Regions from separate parts of the Homo sapiens genome. Here region 1 is linked to region 2. The links come from fine-mapping of genetic effects on gene expression. Tissue or cell type: tibial artery. Region 2 holds a variant in brackets; the other region holds the start of a gene. All regions are shown on one strand. Distances are from middle to middle.

Region 1 (10,417 bases), 23 kb after region 2:
GTATGGTTACTGATGATGGCCATGCCCCATGGGGCATGCAGGAGGCCGGCAAAAGTGGCCCAGATCCAGCCCGGGAGGTCACGGGAGGCTTCCTGAAGGAGGAACATCATGGGACAAGTCTTGAAGGAAGCGAGCCCCAGGAAAGATGAGGCAGAGGGCATCCAGGCCTGCGGACAGCACATGGTCAGGCCCAGGGTCCACAAGAGTTAATGAGAAATGTCCTCACAGCTCACAGCGTGGAGAGGAGGGCTGACCGCAGGAGCCAGGTGGAGCTGTGCAGACCAGGCAGGCGAGGCAGAACCCAGCCGCAGCCCCGGAAGAGCTGGCTGCAGCAGCAACCCAGAAATACATCTTCTCCTCAGCCTAGGAGGGTGGGCAAGGCCACAGGTGCCGCATATGTGTGTACACATCCATATATGCGAAGCCATGTGTGCACATGCATGACTGGTGTCATGCATAGGGACAGATGTGTGCAGCACAGGCATACACACGTGTGTGCAATGTGCATGGATTCGTGTTATCTGCACAGGGAAGGCTGTGCGTGCCCGCAGTATGCACAGGTGTGTGCACAGCATGGGTGCATCATTTCTACATATGCCAGTGTGATACATATGCATGTGTAGACATACGTGTGCAAAAAGCACGTGTGTATGATAGTGCATATGTATATATGCACCTGCATGTGAAGAGTACACGGGCATGTGTATGCACACGCAGGCATGTGTGCATGTGTGGGAACATGTATGTGTGCATACATGTGTGTATATTCTGTAGGCATGGATGCACTGTAAATCCACATGGTATATGTAGACAGTGTGTGTGTGGATGTGTGCATGCATGTGTGTGTGAAGGCATGCAAGTGTGCATGAATAGGTTGCATGCTTGCATGCATGTGTGGATATGTGTATGTATGGGTGTTCATGCTTGCATGAACACACGTGTATTCATGATATGTATATTCATGTGTGTGCATGGATCTATGTGTGCACAAGGATGTGTGTGGATACATATATGTGTGTGGACACTGTACATCTGCGTATGTGCATGCATGCCTGCATGTGCAGGGAGGGGGCTCAAGGAGCCAAACTCCCCTCCACCCGAGCTGAGGCTGCTCACGAAGCCTAGAGCGCGGCATCCCAGGCAGGCACCCAGCTCTCTCCGGCACAGCAGCCAGGGCCCAATGTCCCATGGCTGTATGGCCCTGCTGGACCAACCCTGTCCTCCTAGGCCCCACGCATCATGGGTGAGATACAGGCAGGTTCGCCTCTGCAGCTCCAGGACGTGCCACTTCTAGGTTCTCAGTTCTAGGAAACACCTGTAGGTTTCCCCTCTGAAATATGCCCACTTCTGCCATGTACTCCCCTGCACACGTACACACAGACAGCCCCCACAACCCCCGCCAGTGCAGCCTGACTCCCCCAGCACCCTCCTTCCTCGCCCCTCCTGGTCGTGCCAGCTCGCGTCGTGCCTCGTCAGGACAGGAAGTCTTGCTGGGTACGTGCTGTTCTGCTTGTTACGGACAATCCGGAGCAGTTCCTCAAGCCTAATTTCAAGGTCTGGGGGAAGAGTCCTCTCCAGCTTCCTTGCAAACAGCTGCGGTCCCGGGCCCTCCCACCACAGGCAGGCCTGCGTGCAATGCAACCCCTATGCATGGCCCAGGGCTTCGCTCCTCCTAATGACTCCAGGCCCCAGCTTTTTGCCCTTGGCTCCATCCAGGCCCTGGAGTGGACCCTTCTGACCCCTCCCTGGTCATGCCAGGAGGTGTTGCCAGCAGCATGTCAGCCTGTTGGCTGCCATCCCCAAGGGCCTGGGCCGCTCACTGGCCAGGCACTCCAGATGCCCTCAGCCTGGCCTGTGAGTGGCCCCTGCCTTCAGCCCTCCTGGGCAGTGGGAGGCTCATCTGGCTCAGGGCCCCAGGTGCTCCGTGTCCTTTTCCCTCCAAATTCCCGTGCCTGGGCTGCCATCTCTTGGGAACATAGGAGCCAGGATCCTAGATAGATCCCCATGCCCCTGCGCATCCCCCAAAGCACTTCTCAAAAAGAGAGCCCTTCAGGATGGGGGTGGGAGGCACGCTGATGCCGAGGGAGAGAGACCTTCTCCAAAGCCTGCATCTGGCCCCTGCCACTGCTCTTTCCTAGTCCTCCTGTCTCCCCACGCCCCCAGTACAAAGCCCACTCCCACTGGAAGAAGGACAGCCTACAGAGGCCTCCCCCTTCCTCATAACACCTCCTCACTCTCTAAGCACAGTTTGGTCACCTCCTCCAGGAAGGCTTCCTTGACAACCCCGCTCCCAGGCTGGGGGAGGAGCCCCAGGGCACTGATGGTTGTCAGCGCATTCACCTCAGTGGGTGGCCCCATCCACCCACAGATGGTGAGCACCTCAACTGAGGCCAGGCCCCCCTCACTCTCTGCCATCGCAGAGGGCTCAATAGAGACAAGGGCTCCAGCGGGCCGACCATGAAGGAAGCAGGTGTGTGTGGGCTTCCCTGAAAAATGCACCTCCAGGTGCCCTGGACAGGTGGCACCTTTTAGGCAACCAGAACCAGGAGGGCCTTTAGTAAGGATGGTGACCCTCCACCATCCCCAGGTCACACACCTCCCACAGGACAGCCATGGCCTGTTGCCTCCCCGAAGGGCATATGTGCCCTAGACTAGCACAGGACTGGCACAGAAGGCTTTGGCTCCAACGTGCGCCCCTGCTTGGCAGGCCCATCATCTGAAATATTTGCTTTCTGCCGGGCCCTGGCTCGGCCTCCACACCCCCAATGCAGGCCCTGCTGGTGACAAACATGGTGAAGAACGAAGCCGTAGCTCCTGGCAGTGTCTCTGCGGAGACAGACATGCTCCCCAGTAGGGCTGAGCAGCAGAGAACACGACAGGCTCTGAGGCTAAAGCTGGCGCCCTTCAGGAGCTCAGAGAGAAGCTGCCCCAGGCCACGGGCATGGATAGGCATCCCGGGGGTAGGGCAGTCACTCCAGCCGCTCTTCATGATGACCTCCCGGGCACTCAGAAGCGCCCCTTCCCCGCCGGTTCTAGCCACAGGATGGACAGACCTTCCCTCCCTCTCTCCTGCGGGCCCATGCAGGGAGAGGCCAGCCAGCTGGGGTTCGTTTCTGGACGTTTGGGAGAAGGGTCGTCCCTTCGGTCCTAGCAGAGAAACGTCAGGCCTGAGAACTCCAGCTCTCCTCCTGGATCACCTCGTCCCTGGAAGTCCCTCTCCCACAGACCCCAGGCTGCCTGGAGGCAGAAGCCAGCACCCAACATGGGCCACAGAGTGGCAGTGCACGTGGCAGTGCACATCTGCAGAATGGAGGTGCGCGGACGGGGGCGAGGGTGCACGGGGGCTACCTCAACGGCCGCTCTCCCCTGAGCCCACCCTTGCAAAAAGCTCCATCATCCAGGCAGCTCCGTTCTGGGTGTTTGTCAGAGGTGGTGACTTTGAACACCTCTCCATCCTTTAAAAGCAGGGCCTGAGAGCCTAAGGATTAAACTTCAATCACTGCTAACATGGGTGCAGAGCTTGGGAGCTTGCCCAGGGCTTCCACAGACACCGCCGTTAGTTATGATTCATGCTCCAGCAGCGCTGGGAAGTGGGCCGAGGGAACTGAGGCCGGGGTGGGTGCGGAGGTGGCTCTGACGGGGAGCGCCGATCCAGGATCTGGTCCGGACCCTGAGCTCGGCAGGACCTGTGCGCACGCAGGTAGCGTCGCGTCCTCCCCCAGGCTGCGAGAGGTTGCTCTGCCATCAGGCCATGGACCCCGAGCCGCCCGTGCTGCGCGCGCGCGTGTGCGCGCCCCCGCCTGCGCCCATGCCTGCGCCGGGGGAGGCGAAGGAGGCTCCAGTCTTAGAAAGAGCAGCTTCTGGAACTCACCACCCAGGCCGGCCGCCGCTCGGCCCCGTCCCGCAGGCTGCAGGCGGCCCTGGAGGGGGCGCCCTCGCCGAGCGCGCGCCCCGCGCCGCCGCCCCGGACTCCTCCCCGGCGCCGCGCGGGCAGGTTCGACCAGGCGGCCGCGGGCTCCGGTTCCCGGCCAGCTCCCCAGGGCCCGCGGCCCGCCCCGCCCCGCGCGCCCGCCCCGCTGCGCAACTCGACCCAAGTTGGAAGCCGATCGCAGGCGGCCGCACTCGCGCCCAGCGCAGGGCGGCGGCGGCGGCGGCGGCGCAGCTCCGGCGAGCGAGGCGGCGGCCGCACGGCCAAGCGTGGACCGCGGGGGGCGCCCGCGCCCGGGAGCAGCCGGAGGACTCGCGGCGGCGCCGGCGCCCCGCCCGGGAAAGTAAAGTTGGAGACGGAGGGAGCGCGCGGGCGCGGGGGCCCGGAGGAGCGGCGGCCGGCGCCCCGGCGCGCCGAGCCCTAGCCGGCCGGATGGGAGGCGGAGCGCCCGGGCCGCCGCCGCCTGTCGCCTGCGCCCCGGCTGGGCTCCGGGACCGCGGGGCCGCTCAGGCACGCCCGCTCGGGCGCCGCGTCGCCGTGGGCTCGACGCCGGGGCGCTCCCCGTGAGCCGGGCCGAGGGCGGGGCCGCGCGAGGACCCCGGGACCTGCCCCCCTCCCCCCGCAGCCGCGTCGCCGCTCGCTCCGGGCGCCTCCTGCTCTGCACTTACACGCTCGGCAGCTGCGGGGAGCCCGGCAGCCACGCTCTCCGGCGCGCCGCCCGCGGAGCCACCACGGCCGAGGGCCGGCTGCTGGGCGCCGCGGTCCCCGGCGGGCGCGCCCGAGCAGCAGGCGGCGATGCGGGCGCCGACCCCGGCTGGGGGGCGCCCGAGCTGCCGCGGCTGCGCCCCGGCTCCAGGAGGGACGGCGTAGCTCGCGGGAGGACCATGGCGTCCCCGGCGCTGGCGGCGGCGCTGGCGGTGGCGGCAGCGGCGGGCCCCAATGCGAGCGGCGCGGGCGAGAGGGGCAGCGGCGGGGTTGCCAATGCCTCGGGGGCTTCCTGGGGGCCGCCGCGCGGCCAGTACTCGGCGGGCGCGGTGGCAGGGCTGGCTGCCGTGGTGGGCTTCCTCATCGTCTTCACCGTGGTGGGCAACGTGCTGGTGGTGATCGCCGTGCTGACCAGCCGGGCGCTGCGCGCGCCACAGAACCTCTTCCTGGTGTCGCTGGCCTCGGCCGACATCCTGGTGGCCACGCTGGTCATGCCCTTCTCGTTGGCCAACGAGCTCATGGCCTACTGGTACTTCGGGCAGGTGTGGTGCGGCGTGTACCTGGCGCTCGATGTGCTGTTTTGCACCTCGTCGATCGTGCATCTGTGTGCCATCAGCCTGGACCGCTACTGGTCGGTGACGCAGGCCGTCGAGTACAACCTGAAGCGCACACCACGCCGCGTCAAGGCCACCATCGTGGCCGTGTGGCTCATCTCGGCCGTCATCTCCTTCCCGCCGCTGGTCTCGCTCTACCGCCAGCCCGACGGCGCCGCCTACCCGCAGTGCGGCCTCAACGACGAGACCTGGTACATCCTGTCCTCCTGCATCGGCTCCTTCTTCGCGCCCTGCCTCATCATGGGCCTGGTCTACGCGCGCATCTACCGAGTGGCCAAGCTGCGCACGCGCACGCTCAGCGAGAAGCGCGCCCCCGTGGGCCCCGACGGTGCGTCCCCGACTACCGAAAACGGGCTGGGCGCGGCGGCAGGCGCAGGCGAGAACGGGCACTGCGCGCCCCCGCCCGCCGACGTGGAGCCGGACGAGAGCAGCGCAGCGGCCGAGAGGCGGCGGCGCCGGGGCGCGTTGCGGCGGGGCGGGCGGCGGCGAGCGGGCGCGGAGGGGGGCGCGGGCGGTGCGGACGGGCAGGGGGCGGGGCCGGGGGCGGCTGAGTCGGGGGCGCTGACCGCCTCCAGGTCCCCGGGGCCCGGTGGCCGCCTGTCGCGCGCCAGCTCGCGCTCCGTCGAGTTCTTCCTGTCGCGCCGGCGCCGGGCGCGCAGCAGCGTGTGCCGCCGCAAGGTGGCCCAGGCGCGCGAGAAGCGCTTCACCTTTGTGCTGGCTGTGGTCATGGGCGTGTTCGTGCTCTGCTGGTTCCCCTTCTTCTTCAGCTACAGCCTGTACGGCATCTGCCGCGAGGCCTGCCAGGTGCCCGGCCCGCTCTTCAAGTTCTTCTTCTGGATCGGCTACTGCAACAGCTCGCTCAACCCGGTCATCTACACGGTCTTCAACCAGGATTTCCGGCGATCCTTTAAGCACATCCTCTTCCGACGGAGGAGAAGGGGCTTCAGGCAGTGACTCGCACCCGTCTGGGAATCCTGGACAGCTCCGCGCTCGGGGCTGGGCAGAAGGGGCGGCCCGGACGGGGGAGCTTTCCCAGAGACCCGGGGATGGATTGGCCTCCAGGGCGCAGGGGAGGGTGCGGCAGGGCAGGAGCTTGGCAGAGAGATAGCCGGGCTCCAGGGAGTGGGGAGGAGAGAGGGGGAGACCCCTTTGCCTTCCCCCCTCAGCAAGGGGCTGCTTCTGGGGCTCCCTGCCTGGATCCAGCTCTGGGAGCCCTGCCGAGGTGTGGCTGTGAGGTCAGGGTTTTAGAGAGCAGTGGCAGAGGTAGCCCCCTAAATGGGCAAGCAAGGAGCCCCCCAAAGACACTACCACTCCCCATCCCCGTCTGACCAAGGGCTGACTTCTCCAGGACCTAGTCGGGGGGTGGCTGCCAGGGGGCAAGGAGAAAGCACCGACAATCTTTGATTACTGAAAGTATTTAAATGTTTGCCAAAAACAACAGCCAAAACAACCAAACTATTTTCTAAATAAACCTTTGTAATCTAATGTTGGGTGCCGCAGTCAGTCCTTGAGCTTGGGGGCTGGGGGTATCTTCCAGACCCTCACCCTGCCTGACACCCTCCCCCATCTCCCCCACCCCACAATGCTGGACGGAGGGCACCCTGGGCCTCCGGGTTACAACTTCCTTCTTGCATGAGAAGGAGGGGTCTTGCTTTTTCTCAAGCTAACCCTTTATGTACATGGAAAATATGTACTCAAAATTCCTGTGCTGAGAGTAGCGAAGAGGTGAAAGGAGCCTAGAACCCCCAAGTTGACCCCAAGTTTAGATTCTGGGGGACTGTCTTCCCTGCATTCCCATCCCTGCCCCCTGCCCTTCCCCACTCTGATATTCAGGGCCTCCGGTGGAAAGAGGTGGGGCTCTTCCAGTCCAAGACTGAGAGTAGCTTTGAGCTAGTCCTCCTGGCTCTGAACATTTTGTGGGCGTGGCTCTTGGGTGGAGAGAGGGTGGGCGTGAGGCCGGCAAGCCCCCACACCATCACTCTTAGGCCAGAGGCCTGGCCAGAGCCAGGTTGAACAACAGGCACTTTCTTATTTCCGAAACAAACTGAAAGTCATTGAGGCCCCAGAGCAGTGGAGTGGAACAAACCAGCAATGTCTGGAGAGGGGCCTGGGGCCGGCCTGTTTCCTGTGGTGCCCCCAGGGTCTTCCCAGTGCAGCCCTGCCTTTCCCCCTTGCTCCACCGTCAGGCCCAGCAGGTGTCCACACTGTTCACACTGCTGCTTGAGGAAGGGCAGTGGAAAGTGGGGGACAGAATACCAAGGTGGGCTTCCTGGTGCTGGGCCTTCATGGTGTAGGGACCACTCAGACTCAGCCGTGTCACAGGGCCTGGAAGTTGCCAGGATGGCTGGAGGGGAGGGGCAAAAGCGGGACCTGCGCCTGGCAGGAGCTGGGCAGGGGTCCCCCCAACACACACGCACAGACAGCTCGGTAGGCGTGTGGGGGCTGTGTCAGGCCTCCTGCTTGTGACCATCCATTCCCCATTCCCGTCCCCCTTCCCATCCCTGGGAGGCCCCCCTGGGCTTCCCTATGTGTACCCTCCCCTGCCAGACCCTGCCTGCTGAGCCCAGCCCAGATCCATCCTGGATACCCACCTCTCTCTTTGGCATGGGGGGCCAGGGTCTGCCTGGGGAGGGGTCAGCCCTGGGTCCTGTGTTCTTCTGCAAGCCCCCGTCCGCGAAGTCAGGTTCCAGAGCAGGGGGACCTGACTTGCCAGAGTTGGCCCTTGGAGAACCCCCTCGCCGCAGCTGCCTGGCTTCCACCCCAGATGATGGGTCTTCAGGATACCCCAGCTGGGAAGAGCTCTCCCAGCCGTGTCCACAGCTGGCACATGTGCTAATGCTCACACCTGCTGTGTGCTAGTCTCAGACACAGGTGGGGAGATACAGACAGCAGTGGGGGCAGGGGAGGGGTGGAGAACATGGCCAGTCAAGGCCGATGAGGACATCCCTGACCTCCCCCGACCAGGCCTGGGCAGGGAGTCCTGAACTGTTGGCCCAGCTTGTCCTGGAGCTGTTGTACTGGCTCAGACAAATCCCTGCTCTCTGGGCCTCGGTGCCCCACCTGGGAAGTGGAGGGGGTCCTGGGAGCCCTCTTGGGCCCTGCCAGGCCTGCCAATCTGTTGGGCAATCTATCCCCTGAGCCTGGGACCACAGGAGACCCCACCTCAGAGACTCCATGGCTGACATCGCACCCAGGGACACTCTGAGGGCAGGCCTTGGGCTGCGAGAGAATCACTGTACACACATGAAAAAGACTCCAGAGCTCAGGATTTCTGCTCCAGAATCTGCATCTTACCAAGCCGGCAGGAGGGGTCCAAAACTCACAACTGCAAGACGGGAGGGCAGACCCCCAACCCCTCACCTGCCAGCACTCAAGACCCCAAGTCCCGCCCAGGGCACCCTTCCCTTGAGAGCACCAGCATTTCATGGGATAACTCGTACATTTCATGGGACTCAGAGAGGTGGATTAACCTGCCTGAGGTCACACAGCTGGTGATAAGACCCAACAGGGCCCAGGTTTCCTGGCCCCAAATTCAACCAGATAACAAGTATTTCTTGAGTATCTCCACCATTTCCTACTGCCTCCTGGGAGGTCTTCAGGAATGGGCAACTTCCCACAGCTGAGGGCAGACCCCACGTGGAGGCACAGCATGATGAGCAAGGGTTTGGAGGTAGGAGGTGCAAGTGTGTTTTAGGAAATGGGGTGCCAGCATGGGGAGGGGGAGACAATGCAGACAGGAGGCTGGACAGAGGGGCCGTGTGCCAGGCTGCAGGGGAGAAGCTGGTGGGAGGGTGCTTGGACAGAGTGTCAGGTTTTGATCTGACCCCCTGGGGGCTGTGAGGTCTGCAGAGGAAATGCAACCTCCCAGGGCTGGAGCCTGCCCTGTCACCTGCTCAGCAGTGTGGCCGACTGAGCATGTCACCTCTGAACTGCAGATCCTCCTCCCTGCAAGGGGATAACCACAGCCCCCCCACACCCAGGGATCCTGGGAGATTAACTTCGAGGATACAGCAGGGCACGCAGCCTGGTACACGCTCGGGGAAGAATGTCAGCAAACCTTCCTCCTCTTCCCGTCCTGACCCTGCCAGTCACACCCTCCAGGGCTATGGCCGGGACTGCAGCCGGCAGATGTTCACCACTCGATCTTGGTTGCCGCCTGGAGAGACTTTCTTTTCAGCTGGATAAACAGAGACAGAAACCTGGCTTCTCACCCTGCCTGCTGCAGGGACACGTGTCACCTTGCTCTGAGTCCTGGTGTCTTCATCCATGAAGGGGGCACTGACACCCACCCCGAGGGTAAGATGAGCCCCGAGTGCCTCCAAACCCAGCCCAGGAACCACCCGCCAAGGGGACTTCTCAACGCCCAGAGCAGGGCCCTCCCCTCTGCCGACCTGTCCACCACGGCCCCTGACTTCCTGAGTGGCTCTCCTCTCCACGGACGAGGCCTGGGCCTGCCTCACTTCTTCATGCCGACTTCATGGATCCAGAGTGGCCTGATGTCAACCCCCATATGTGGTTGTGGAAACTGAGGCCTAGAGGTGACTGTGTGGCCAGGGACCCCTAGGGGTGAGGGGGCAGAGCAAACTGTGGACTCAGAAAGGTCCCTCTGCAGAGAGCCTGGGCTCTGATCTCACCCCGTCCCAAGCAAGCCACAGAGCAGCGTTTTCCACGACCGGTTTCCTGGGCAGAGCTCCCCGTTGGGCTCTTGGGAGATTTCAGGCAAAATAAAATAAAGCAGCCACTACCGACGGAGGAGGGCTTGCCCTGTGTGGAGGGTGCTGGCTCGAACGCCGTCCTGCTCAGGGTTCCTGTGTACCTGGCCCAAGCCTGTCACAGATGCAGCTCCTACCAGATATACATAGACATGCATATGTTTTCATTAACTCCTGTATTTTAATCCTATGGCTGTTGGTAGGAAAGGAGGGAAAAGAAAGAATCCAAATATTCCATTGCAGCTCAGTATGGAATTCAAAAGGAAATATTCCTTGGTGCAGGCAGCAATGTTAGTACTTTATAGAAGCAGCTCCAGGCTTTGGATCCTGCCCCCGACTCCGGGGGTGGGGGCTGGAGGGTGGGGGAAACACGTTGCCGTGGCACTTGCTGGCGAGGAAGCCGCCCTTCCCGGCTGTGCTGGCAGCCGGCTGTATTTTTCTATCACATCCATCGGCAG
Region 2 (10,417 bases):
CCTGACCTTGTGATCCGCTCACCTTGGCCTCCCAAAGTGCTGGGATTACAGGCATGAGCCACCGCGCCTGGCTAGGTTTAAACTGGACAGCTTCCCGGGGCCAGCCTACAAGCGGCGCCCACAGGGCCGGAGAGGCCATGAGATGATAAGATGCAACCTCTGCGTTTGTCAAAGAGAGCTCCGGGTGGGGTTGGAGAGGGACCTGGGTGAGCTGCTTGGCCTGGAGGTCAGGTCTTCCCTGGGGGAGGCCAGGGAGCTCTGCATGGCCTTGACCCCCTGCAAAGAGGGTAGGGGCGGCGTGGGGCTTTAGTTCTGCCCCGTGCAGTGGGCAAATTGGGCCCATGCTTGGGGTTATGGGGGAACTGTGTTATCCCAAAATTCATATTGAAGTCCCAACCCCAGGACCTCAGAGTGGGCCCTTATTTGGAAATAAGGTCGTTGGAGATGTCATGAGTTAAGATGAGGTCATGCTGGGATAGGGAAGCCCCTAATTCAATCTGGCTGATGTCCTTATAAAGGGGGAGATTTGGACACAGGCACGGAGGGAGAGTGCCGTGGGAGGAAGAAGGCAGGGGTCGGGGTGTCACTTCCTCAAGCCAAGGAGCGGCCGCGGCTGCTGGCGCCACCAGGAGCTGGGTAGAGGATGGGACCATTCTTCCCTCGCAGCCTCGAGGGGAGCCAGACCTGCCCACACCCTGACCCGGACTCCCGGCCTCCAGAGCTGGGAGAGGAGATCTTTCTGTTTCTGTTGTTTAGGCCCCAGTCTGTGGCACTCTTTATGGCAGCCCTGGGGATCTCATATGTTCGGGGTACAGAGAGGAGGCTTGGCTGCCTGGGGCTCCCTCTCTCCACCTGGCCCCACCAACAGCTGCAGTTCTGGGTCCAGCACAGCCTCATGCTCCCACCCTGGAGGCCTGACACCGAGGGTCGGGGGAATGAGGCCAGTCCTGACCTGGCCTGTGGCAGGTGCAGCTGTCCCGGGGCTGCGATGTGAGGTCCCAGGGACATGAGGCGAGGGCGTGGCCTGCAGCTGGCAGAGGCCCCTCCACAGCGCAGAGCTGAGATGACCTCGTCCAGCGCCACAAGGCCTTGGCGCCATCCCACCGGGCTGAGGTGCGTGGGCAGCACTCACCATGCTCCCCCTGAAACCACAGTCACAGACCAACTGTGGTGGCCCAGCTGCCTGGCCTCCTCCAGGGAGTCTTTGGGATTCCCTGGGCGGGGTGAGGCACCCCTGGGACTCCCATGGGCCTCTGTGGCCCTCTAGTCCCCGCCAGCTTGTCAGTTTCCCGTTAGTTGAGGATTCCCCTCTGGGAGCCACCTGTACCCCAGACCTGGGCACAGGTGGGCTCTGCAGGATCCCTGGATCCCAGGCTCCCTCAAGCTTCAGCAAAGAGACCTCCCTCCCTCAGCCTGGTCCTTGGGCCCTCCAGGACCTGGGGGAGTGGCCAGTCCCCAGTAGGGAGAGGAGGAGAACACAGCTATCTGGGCGAATGTGACAGCGGTTTGCCAGCAAGCCCACCCTGCCCACAGCACCCCTGCCCCGCTTTGCTGGAAGAAGGTGTGGCCTGGGTGTGGGAGGAACCTCCACCCCCAGAAACCCAGCACAGCAGCACTGCCAGACTGTGAAGGGCCCCACGCGCGTCCGGGGCCCTCTCCGTGAGAATCAGAGGTCACACAAGCCACAGCTGTAAACGCTCATCAAAGAGCACGATAGGCCACTCGACGAGTTCTGCCGCTAGTGACAGGGAGAGAGGCCAGTTCCGCCCCGATCAACCACGCTGGCCTACACCACTTCCGCCCTGATCAACCACGCTGGCCGAGGCCAGTTCCGCCGCCGATCAACCATGCTGGCCGAGGCCAGTTCAGCTGCCGATTAACCATGCTGGCCGGGGCCAGTTCCGCTGCTGATTAACCATGCTGGCCGTAATTTCATGACCTGTCACTTAGGATTTTTGTCCCTCAAAATGATCAAAGTGCCACGAACACGTGGGATGACAGCATCATCTGCACCACCCCATGCCGTGGAGGAAGAGCTGGGTTTGGGCATCAGGAGGTCCAAGTCTCTGCTATCATCCCTGTGCTGGGGTGGTCACCCATCCCCCAGGGCCATGTCACCTCACTCAGGAAATTGAGGTGATCAATGACTTTAGCAGAAGCTGGTTTTAGAGCAAAGTCCTTTGCAGGGTCCTGAGGGATGAAGCAGGGGAGGAGGGAACAGCTCCTGTTCTGTGGCTGGAGGTCCCAGGAGCACCACACACCTGGGCTCCCAGCCACTTGGAGGACAGGCTGGAGGGGGAGGCACCCGGGGTGAGAAGGGCAGGTGAGGGGTGGCAGGCCACTAATGACCCCAGGGCAATCAGGATAAGGCTGACCATGGCTTAAGAGGTGCTGTCCCATGTGACAGTGTGGAGGGGTGGACTGTGGCTTATTCACTGGAGGCTTTGAGAAACAGCCAGCACATCCCTGATGTGAGGCCGGTGGGTCTCCCTCAGCCGCAGTGTCACAGAGATCTCCCTGCTCTGCTGGCTAAGAGATTTCACGCCAGCTCACCTTGGAACTTGGCAAAAGGCCCAAGACAATGCCCAGATTCAGCTGTGTGGCATCTCGATCTCACCCACTTGAGCGCTTCTCCACCCCAGCAGGCCCGCTGCCATCAAGGGCTTACCCTGTGGGCTGCCCACGCTGCTGTAACCAGTGACCACAAGCTCCGTGGTGTTGAGAAGCACATGTTTCTCCTCCCACGGCTGTGTAGGTCCGGAGTCCTACGGGCTCAGCCAGTCCCCCTGCTCCAGGTTTAACCAGGCCGGAATCAAGATGCCAGGGCCTGGCTGTGCTTTGGAGGCTCTTGGTGAGAACCTGCTTCTGGCCTGGTGCAGGGTGTGGCAGAATCCCGATGCTTGAGTTTGAATGGTGAAATTTATGCTCCAGCGTGGCTGGGCCATGGTACTCAGATATTTATTTAGTCAAACCATATTCTAAATGTTGCTGTGAAGGTAATTTTTTTTCTTAAAGATTAAGATTTAAATCAGGCCATCTGCTTCACCTGATTGGATGTGGGAGGGCCTCATCTGATCAGGTGAAGGCTTTCAGAGAAAAGGCCACACTCCCTATGGAGGAAGAGAGGATTTCGGCAGCCGACGGACTCGGACTGGAGCTTCAGCACAACTCTTCCCAGCCTGCCAGCCTGCCAGCCTGCCGTGCGGATTTTGGACTTGACAGCCCCTGCAACCACACACACACACAGACACACACACACACACACACATACACATACACACACACACGACCTCTGGGTTCGGTTTATCTGGAGATAAACCGAATGATACACCATCCTAGGACTGAGGTCCCTATCCCTTGCTGATGGCCAGTGGGGCTGTCCCTAGCCCTGCAAGGCTCCCTGAATCCCCTATCACACTGTCCTTACATCTTCCAACCAGCAGTGGCAGGTGGAGTCTTTCCCACTCTTTGGATCTCTCTGACTTCTCCTACACTGCCCTGACTCCAGCCTGATGGAGTTCCCTGTTTCTAATGCCTTCTGTGCTTAGACCAGGCCCTCCCAGATAATCCAGGACAATCTCCCTGTCTTAACATCTCTGATTAGTAACTGTAATTACATCTACAAAATCCTTCTTGCAAAATTACATTATATGCAATGTGACGTTCACAGGTACCAGGGTATGGATAAATCTGGGGGACCCAATTTGGCTGCCACATTTGCCCTTGGTGAGCTTTATCCCCTTCCTCCCCCTTCACACCCCCAGAGCTCTCAGCTCCTCCAGTGCATCTAAACCTGCTCTGGGGCCCCTCATCCCACCAAGATGTCAATAGCAGAAAATGAGCCCCTAGTGGGACTACCTTCTATCAGGCATCAGAGGCAGGCTTGGAGGGACTCATTCTCTGTGGTGGGACCTCAGGCAGGAGACGCTGGGTCACGGAGCACTGTGTGGATGTGCTCCACACCAGGCTGTGGCACAGGATGCTGCCAGTCCCCAGTGGTGAGGACCCTGCACCATCATGTTCAGCAGAAGACCAGCCATGCAGGCCCTGTAGTCACCACATTCATTTATTTTCCCCCTTCAGTCACCCTGTGTCAGTTAGCTACTGCTGCGTAACAAACAGCCCCAATTTAGCAATTTACAATAACCATTTGTTTAGCTCATTCAAGAGTGAAGGGCTGAGGCCATTTTTGTGATCCACTGTGTTCCTCAAGCCCTAGACCCACCCAGCTCAGCAGCCAAGGAGGCAGAACCTTACAAGTTGCAGAGTCTTACAAGTTGTGGCAGTGTTAGGATTAGTCTTCAGCTGCCTGGTGTTTGAGGCCATCCAAGCCTGGCTCCACTCCACTGCCACCTTCCCCCATCCAACTCCCCACCAAGGTGACATCTCATGGCTGTGCCAGACCACGTTCAAGCTACACCCTGCAGCACTGCCCTGGCCACAAGCAAAAGCCTCGCGCCCCTTCTGCTGGCCAGCCCATCCTGCAAGGCAGACTGGGAGCCTTCTCTGGGTGACCGTGGGCAAATCAATCAGCCTCTCTGAGGCTTGGTTTTGTCAACTGCAAAATCGAGGTGCTGATATGATGTGCCTCCCAGGACCATGTGCAGATAAGTGATGGGAGGGTGACCATATGCATTGCATAGCCTGCCCCAAAGGCACAGCCTCATTCTGGCAGGTTCTGGGGGCTGCTCCTCTGGTCAGCTTGCCCTGGGCCTGCAGAATCTTGACTTGAGCCCCCAGGGGTGGGGTGCGGGTGGGCTTCAGGTGGTGGGCCTGCCCCTGCAATGTTGGAGGGGCTCTTGAACCAAGAATGGTGTGATGCTTAGGTCACCTCTTGTTTGGGGCTGGAAACAGGTCCTGCTGTGGCCTGAGCTGCGGTGCAGGGACTCTCTCTGATGGGTTTCAGCTTGCCCCTCCTCGTGTTTGGGCTCCCCATCATCACCCTGGCTCACACGGTACAAAACTCCTCTGGAAGCCTGTGCAGGTCGGGGGACCCAGGTTGCAAGTGACAGAAACAAAACCAAACTGGCTGAAACAAAAAAGTGACTTTATTGGCTTATGTGATGGAAAAGCCTGGAGGTTAATCCCGGGCTCTGGGCGTGGTGGAATCCAGGAGCCGAACCCCGTTCTTGGGATGGAGTCTCCTCTTCTTGCAGTTCTGCTTTAGTCTGAGGGAGGCTTGTGCTTTCCGGTGGTAAGAACAGCCCGGCTCCTGCCCTCTAGGGTGAGGAGAAATGCCTTCTTTTCGGGAGTTCTGGATAAAGCCCCGCATGGAAGCTCCCCGAGTTGCCTGGGGCCGTGCACCAACCCTAGACCCCTCTGGCCTAGGGGATGGTCTGCTGTGAGTGCCGCTCCTGATGCGGCTGCCTTAAGAGCTGGGGAGGGATCTGTTCCTTGCAAGGCAAGGGACAGTGAGTGGGAAGAGGGTGGGCTCCCAAGGGGCTCTCTCCAAAAAGGTGAGGGTGCCGGGCAGGTGCCTGGGGCAGAGTCCAGGCAGGAGCAGAGGGCACACACCAGCAGAGCGAGTTGAGTCCAGGCGGGAGCAGAGGGCGCACACCAGCAGAGCGAGTCGAGTTCAGGTGGGAGCAGAGGGCGCCCACCAGCAGAGCGAGTCGAGTCCAGGCGGGAGCAGAGGGCGCACACCAGCAGAGTGAGCCCAGAGGGTTTAAAGAAGGGGCGGTCTCTACGGTATGGGTAGAGTCAGGGGAACTAGGAAAGGACAGAGCAGAACCTGGGGTAGGTAGCCGGGGAGCCAGGGCTGACCCACGCCTGAGGACAGGAGGGACGCAGGCAGACCCCAGAGGAGGGCCCGGGCCGCCCAGCAGTCCATGGCAGGGAGACGCAGGCGCTCCTGCCCAGGACCGGGAGAAGGGGTCTGGGGATAAAACCCCGATCTCTCTCGCCCCACCCCATTATTTTCTGTGAGCTTCCTCTTAGCCATACACGATGAGCAGCTGGTGGGCAGGGGCGCCCCTTGACACAGCCATACGGGATACGGGTAAGGCTGGGTGGGGGTGTCTGGGGGGCACACAGAGAATAACCAGCACACAGCCAAACCCGTGCTCTCTAACCCGTCAACAGAAACTTAACAATAAGTGTTCATAACCTATACGAAGGCAATCATAAAACACTCCTGAAGACACAAAAAAAACCCGAAATAGAACAGTTAGGATGTTCCAGCATCACCGAGATGTCAGCTCTCCCTAATTTAGGGTATAAATTTAATGCGATTCTAATAACAACCCCATGCGTTTCTCTTTCAAAGAGAGCTAGAACTGATACTAACGTTCACATGGAAAAATAAACAAGCCTTGCCAGGGAAGGGCGGGGTGAACGGGGCCAGCCCTATCAGACGCTAAAGCACGCAGTGGGGCCTCTTTAATGAGAACAGTGCC[A/T]AATGACACAAAAATACACAGGGCCGTGGGAGAGGAGGGACAGAGACAGGCCCCCCGCTGACGCCGTGTGTGAGGAGGGGGCGCTCCAGTCACTAGAACGGTCTTGGTATTTCACATAAAATGGTACTGGGACAAGTGGAAAACCATTTGCAAAAAAGATAAAATTAGATCCATTTCTCACACCATGCCCAAGAATAAACTCCAAGTAGATGGGAGTCCTAAATGCAAAAAACTGAAATATACAAATGCTAGAAGCAAACATTTGTGAATTCCTCTATAAGAGCAATGAAGAAGGGCTTTCTGTGACTACAAATCCAGGTGTAATCAAAGAAAATATTCATACAATTGCCAATGAAAGCAGCTTATGCAAGGAAAAAACTAAGCAAAACGAAACGACAAATGAACCAGGAGAAAATATTTGGAACTCGCTTCCTAGAGAAAAGGCTCATGTCTCATGTCTCTACTACACAAAGAACTTTTCAAAGTTAAGAAGCACAAATGCAAAGTGTAAGAGCTGCTCTGCTCTAATCCCACGACCTTCCCCACAGCGTCGCCGGCAGGGTGTGTCCTCAGACGTTTGATTTTTGCCAATGTGATGGCAGAGAAGTGTTTCCTTGGTGTGGCTTCAATTTGCATTTCTCTTCTGTGAGGAAGTTGAACACCTTTTCAGGCAGCTAAGGGCCGTTTTTACATCCCTGCTTGGGAACTGTGTGTTCACGCAGTTTGCTGATTTTTTCTATAAGACTTCTAGAAGATATTGATAAGTGAAAGAAAGCACCACGCCAAACAACACAGTAGTACGCTGCCTGTTGCACGGAGTGTAGATACGACTGCCTGTCTTTACAAGCAGCAGCACAGGAAGAATAAACAAGACAACAATTAGATTAGCTTCCTGCAGGGAGTGGGGGAGGGGCGGGGAGGGATTCTCCAGGGAGGCAGCCCAGCACACCTTTTCTGCACTTCTGACTTGCAGAAGCATATTCGTGTTCTACATATTAAATCAGGAGGTATGAGAAAGGGAAAAATAAAATGGACAGAAAACGGGAAAAATGGGCAAATTACATCTCAAATGAAGAACACAGCCACAGTGGAAACCAAAAAGAAATGAAGAACTAATCCAAGAAGCCATGAACACGGTGTCTGTCCGGCAGCCTCAGGCAAGGTCAGAAGGTAAGCGGGGAGTGCGAACGGGCCCAGGGCAGCTTCTCTGGTGCATGAGTTTTACTCTTGTAGTGGAATGAACATGGCCACACTAAAGGCATCACAGGCGCTGGCACAGCCGTGCACACCAGGTCACACATCCACGTCACTGGAAGAAGAGACAGACCATCAGGAACGTGGAGGGCCAGGAAGAACCCCTCAGGCAGGGACTGCACGTCAGCGTGAGTCATGCTCTCAGAAACACGCATGCGTGCGTCATGCTCTCAGAAACACGCATGCGTGCGTCATGCTCTCAGAAACACGCATGCGTGCGTCATGCTCTCAGAAACACGCATGCGTGCGTCATGCTCTCAGAAACACGCATGCGTGAGTCATGCTCTCAGAAACACGCATGCGTGAGTCATGCTCTCAGAAACACGCATGCGTGAGTCATGCTCTCAGAAACACGCATGCGTGAGTCATGCTCTCAGAAACACGCATGCGTGAGTCATGCTCTCAGAAACACGCATGCGTGAGTCATGCTCTCAGAAACACGCATGCGTGCGTGAGCACGTGCAGACGCGTGTCCTCGTGTGCCTGTCTTTATGTCCGTGTGTGTGTGTGTGTGTGTGTGTGTGTCTCTGGGTGATGTGCCTGTGTGCATCTCTTAGGTCTGTCGGCTGAAAGGCTTAAAACCCTTCTATCTTTGACACTGGCACCCAGACCTTGCCACTGGCTCCCAGACCTTGGTTGCTAATATATTACCCATTATATACCCAGACCTTGGTTGCTAATATATTACCCATTATATACCCAGACCTTGGTTGCTAATATATTACCCATTATATTACCAGGGCTCCTCAGAGAAGTGGCTGATTTTAGGGCTGGTGCAAGAAAAGTACAAAAATAGCCTGGAACATCATGTTATGCCAGAAAGTAACGAGGCACACACACAGGCAAACAAAGGTGGCATGTCACAGACTCCAGAGCCAGCACGGAGGGGCGCCTTCTGACCAAATTTGGAACCATTTGAGCACCAAAATATGGAAGTACAGCAATGAATCACAAATCCTTGAAAAAAAAATGGGGATCCAAAAGAACATACTATAGTAGCTGACGGATGATTGATGGCCAGAGAGATAGAGATGATTGATAGGTCGATGATGTGTAGAAGATAGACAGGTAGGTACATGATAGGTAGATAGACAGATGATAGATATGTGACAGGTAGGTAGATAGGTAGGTAGATGGATTACACAGATAGCTGATTGATAGACGACAGATTGAGAAATAGATGGATAGATAGATAGGTAGGTGACTGATGGATGATAGGTGAGATGGAAGGGCTGTTGTTTCAGCGGAAGGCCAGCTGCTGACTGGTGAATGTCGGGGAAGTGCCGGGTTCCAAAGCTGACGTTCTGGCCGGCGTCGTTCACGGGACATTCCTCCAGGGGGAGCTCTGGTGAGGAGCAGACCGTGTCCATGCTGGTAAAGCGTCCCCCGCCCCGACCCCCGAGAGTGCCCCTGAGCTGGAAGGAAACACTGAGCGGTTGTCCAGCAGATCACTCCGCAGCTCCTCCATCAGAAACATCACCAGCATCAGAAACAACACCAGCAGTGAGAGGCGAATGGACATCCTGTGCCCAAGAAAGACACACACTCTTTCTTGTGGCGCTGAAGCCAAAAATGTGCAGGCTCCGTCCAGTCCCAGGAACTGCCAGACGACCCCAAATGAGGACCCATCTATTAAAAAAAAGCCCCGTGTTCTTCCCAAATGTCAGCAGTGTACATGACCAAAACCATGGAAATGTTCCAGATGAAAGAGAACCACAGAGACAAGACGCATCAATGCAACACCTGACCCCAGAGTGGCCCTGTGCTGGAGGACAAGAGCCGTGAAGGACATTCTGGGGTCAGCTGGGAACACGGGAACACAGCTGGGAGAGAGGACTGTGTTAGGATGCGGCTGTGATGGCAAGCTCGCATCCTAACACAGTTAGGGATGATGTGGGAAGAGCTGTCTGTCTCTAGGGTCTCTTTAAAGGCAAGGAGGTGTGATACATGCTTGCAACTTAATACCGAATGGTTCAGAAAAGTCACCCGCAGCGCACCAGCAAGCAAGCCAATGAGAAAATAAATGGGGCAGGCTGGGCGCAGTCATTAAGCCCAGGTGAAAGGTCTATGCTGTTCTTGTACTATTTTTATTTTTGTAGTTTTTCTGTTGTTTGAAATTATGTCCAAACAAAATGTTGAAAAAAACAACACAACGAAAACCCTGCTCTCCACCAAAGTGTCTAAGTGAGGCACACAGACATCGCATGCAAGCAAATCGCTGCTGTTTGCAAAAATCTTGCAAAGCGGCCAACTCATGCCCCCTACCTAGTTACCCCTCCAGGAACCCTTGAGATAAATGATGCAAGAACACCCCACCATCATAATAATAAAGCTTGTACAGTAATAACAATTATAATCTGCTGTAATAACGAACCCCCGTGTGTGCACACCACTTCACAGTTTATAAAGCATTTACCAGACTCCATCAGATCGTCACGGCAGCGAAGTGAAATGTGTGCTCTATAAATGATGCCTCAATAAAGTTGTCAAGTTTTTAAAGGGGAGTCTTGATACCTGTTTTGCCGGGCTGTGGTGAGGATGAAGTGAAATCAGAAAAGGACAAAGCTTTGGGAATTCTGAAGCAGCTTCTCAAACGGTGGTCTCTCGGCCCACCTGGATGGCAGTCCCCCAGGGAGCCTGTTGCTGTGCAGATTCCTGGGGGCTGTCCCCAAAGCTCCAGAGAGTCTGGGACCCTCCCTTGTAGCTCCCCTGGGGAAGCCAGACCAGAGTGCAGCTGCAGAAAGGGCAGGCAGAGGCAGGAGCCCAGC

Direction of the effects. Alleles are on the strand shown, and positions count from the first base shown. SD is a standard deviation of normalised expression in the study named.
For the expression in tibial artery of the gene that starts at base 4,591 in region 1, allele A in region 2 goes with a higher level than allele T (small effect, 0.26 SD a copy in GTEx).

Evidence for each region. PIP is the estimated chance that this variant, and not a neighbour inherited with it, causes the effect.
Region 1: it holds the start of ADRA2C, and the variant in region 2 is fine-mapped to the expression of ADRA2C in tibial artery (GTEx, PIP above 0.99).

The regions. Positions count from the first base shown.
Region 1 is chr4:3,761,795-3,772,211 of GRCh38, forward strand. ADRA2C (adrenoceptor alpha 2C) reads left to right here and starts at 4,591. Exons shown (of 1, transcript NM_000683.4): 1 at 4,591-6,732. The coding sequence starts at 4,813. The coding sequence ends at 6,201. RefSeq lists enhancers at 1-263, 6,296-6,813, 7,006-7,691, 8,378-9,063, 9,064-9,749.
Region 2 is chr4:3,738,728-3,749,144 of GRCh38, forward strand. No RefSeq gene overlaps it. Among named protein-coding and RNA genes, the nearest start is that of ADRA2C, 22 kb to the right of the region's middle. RefSeq lists enhancers at 7,180-8,379, 7,350-7,875 and a silencer at 8,399-8,569. The variant A/T (reference allele first, on the strand shown) is at 6,396.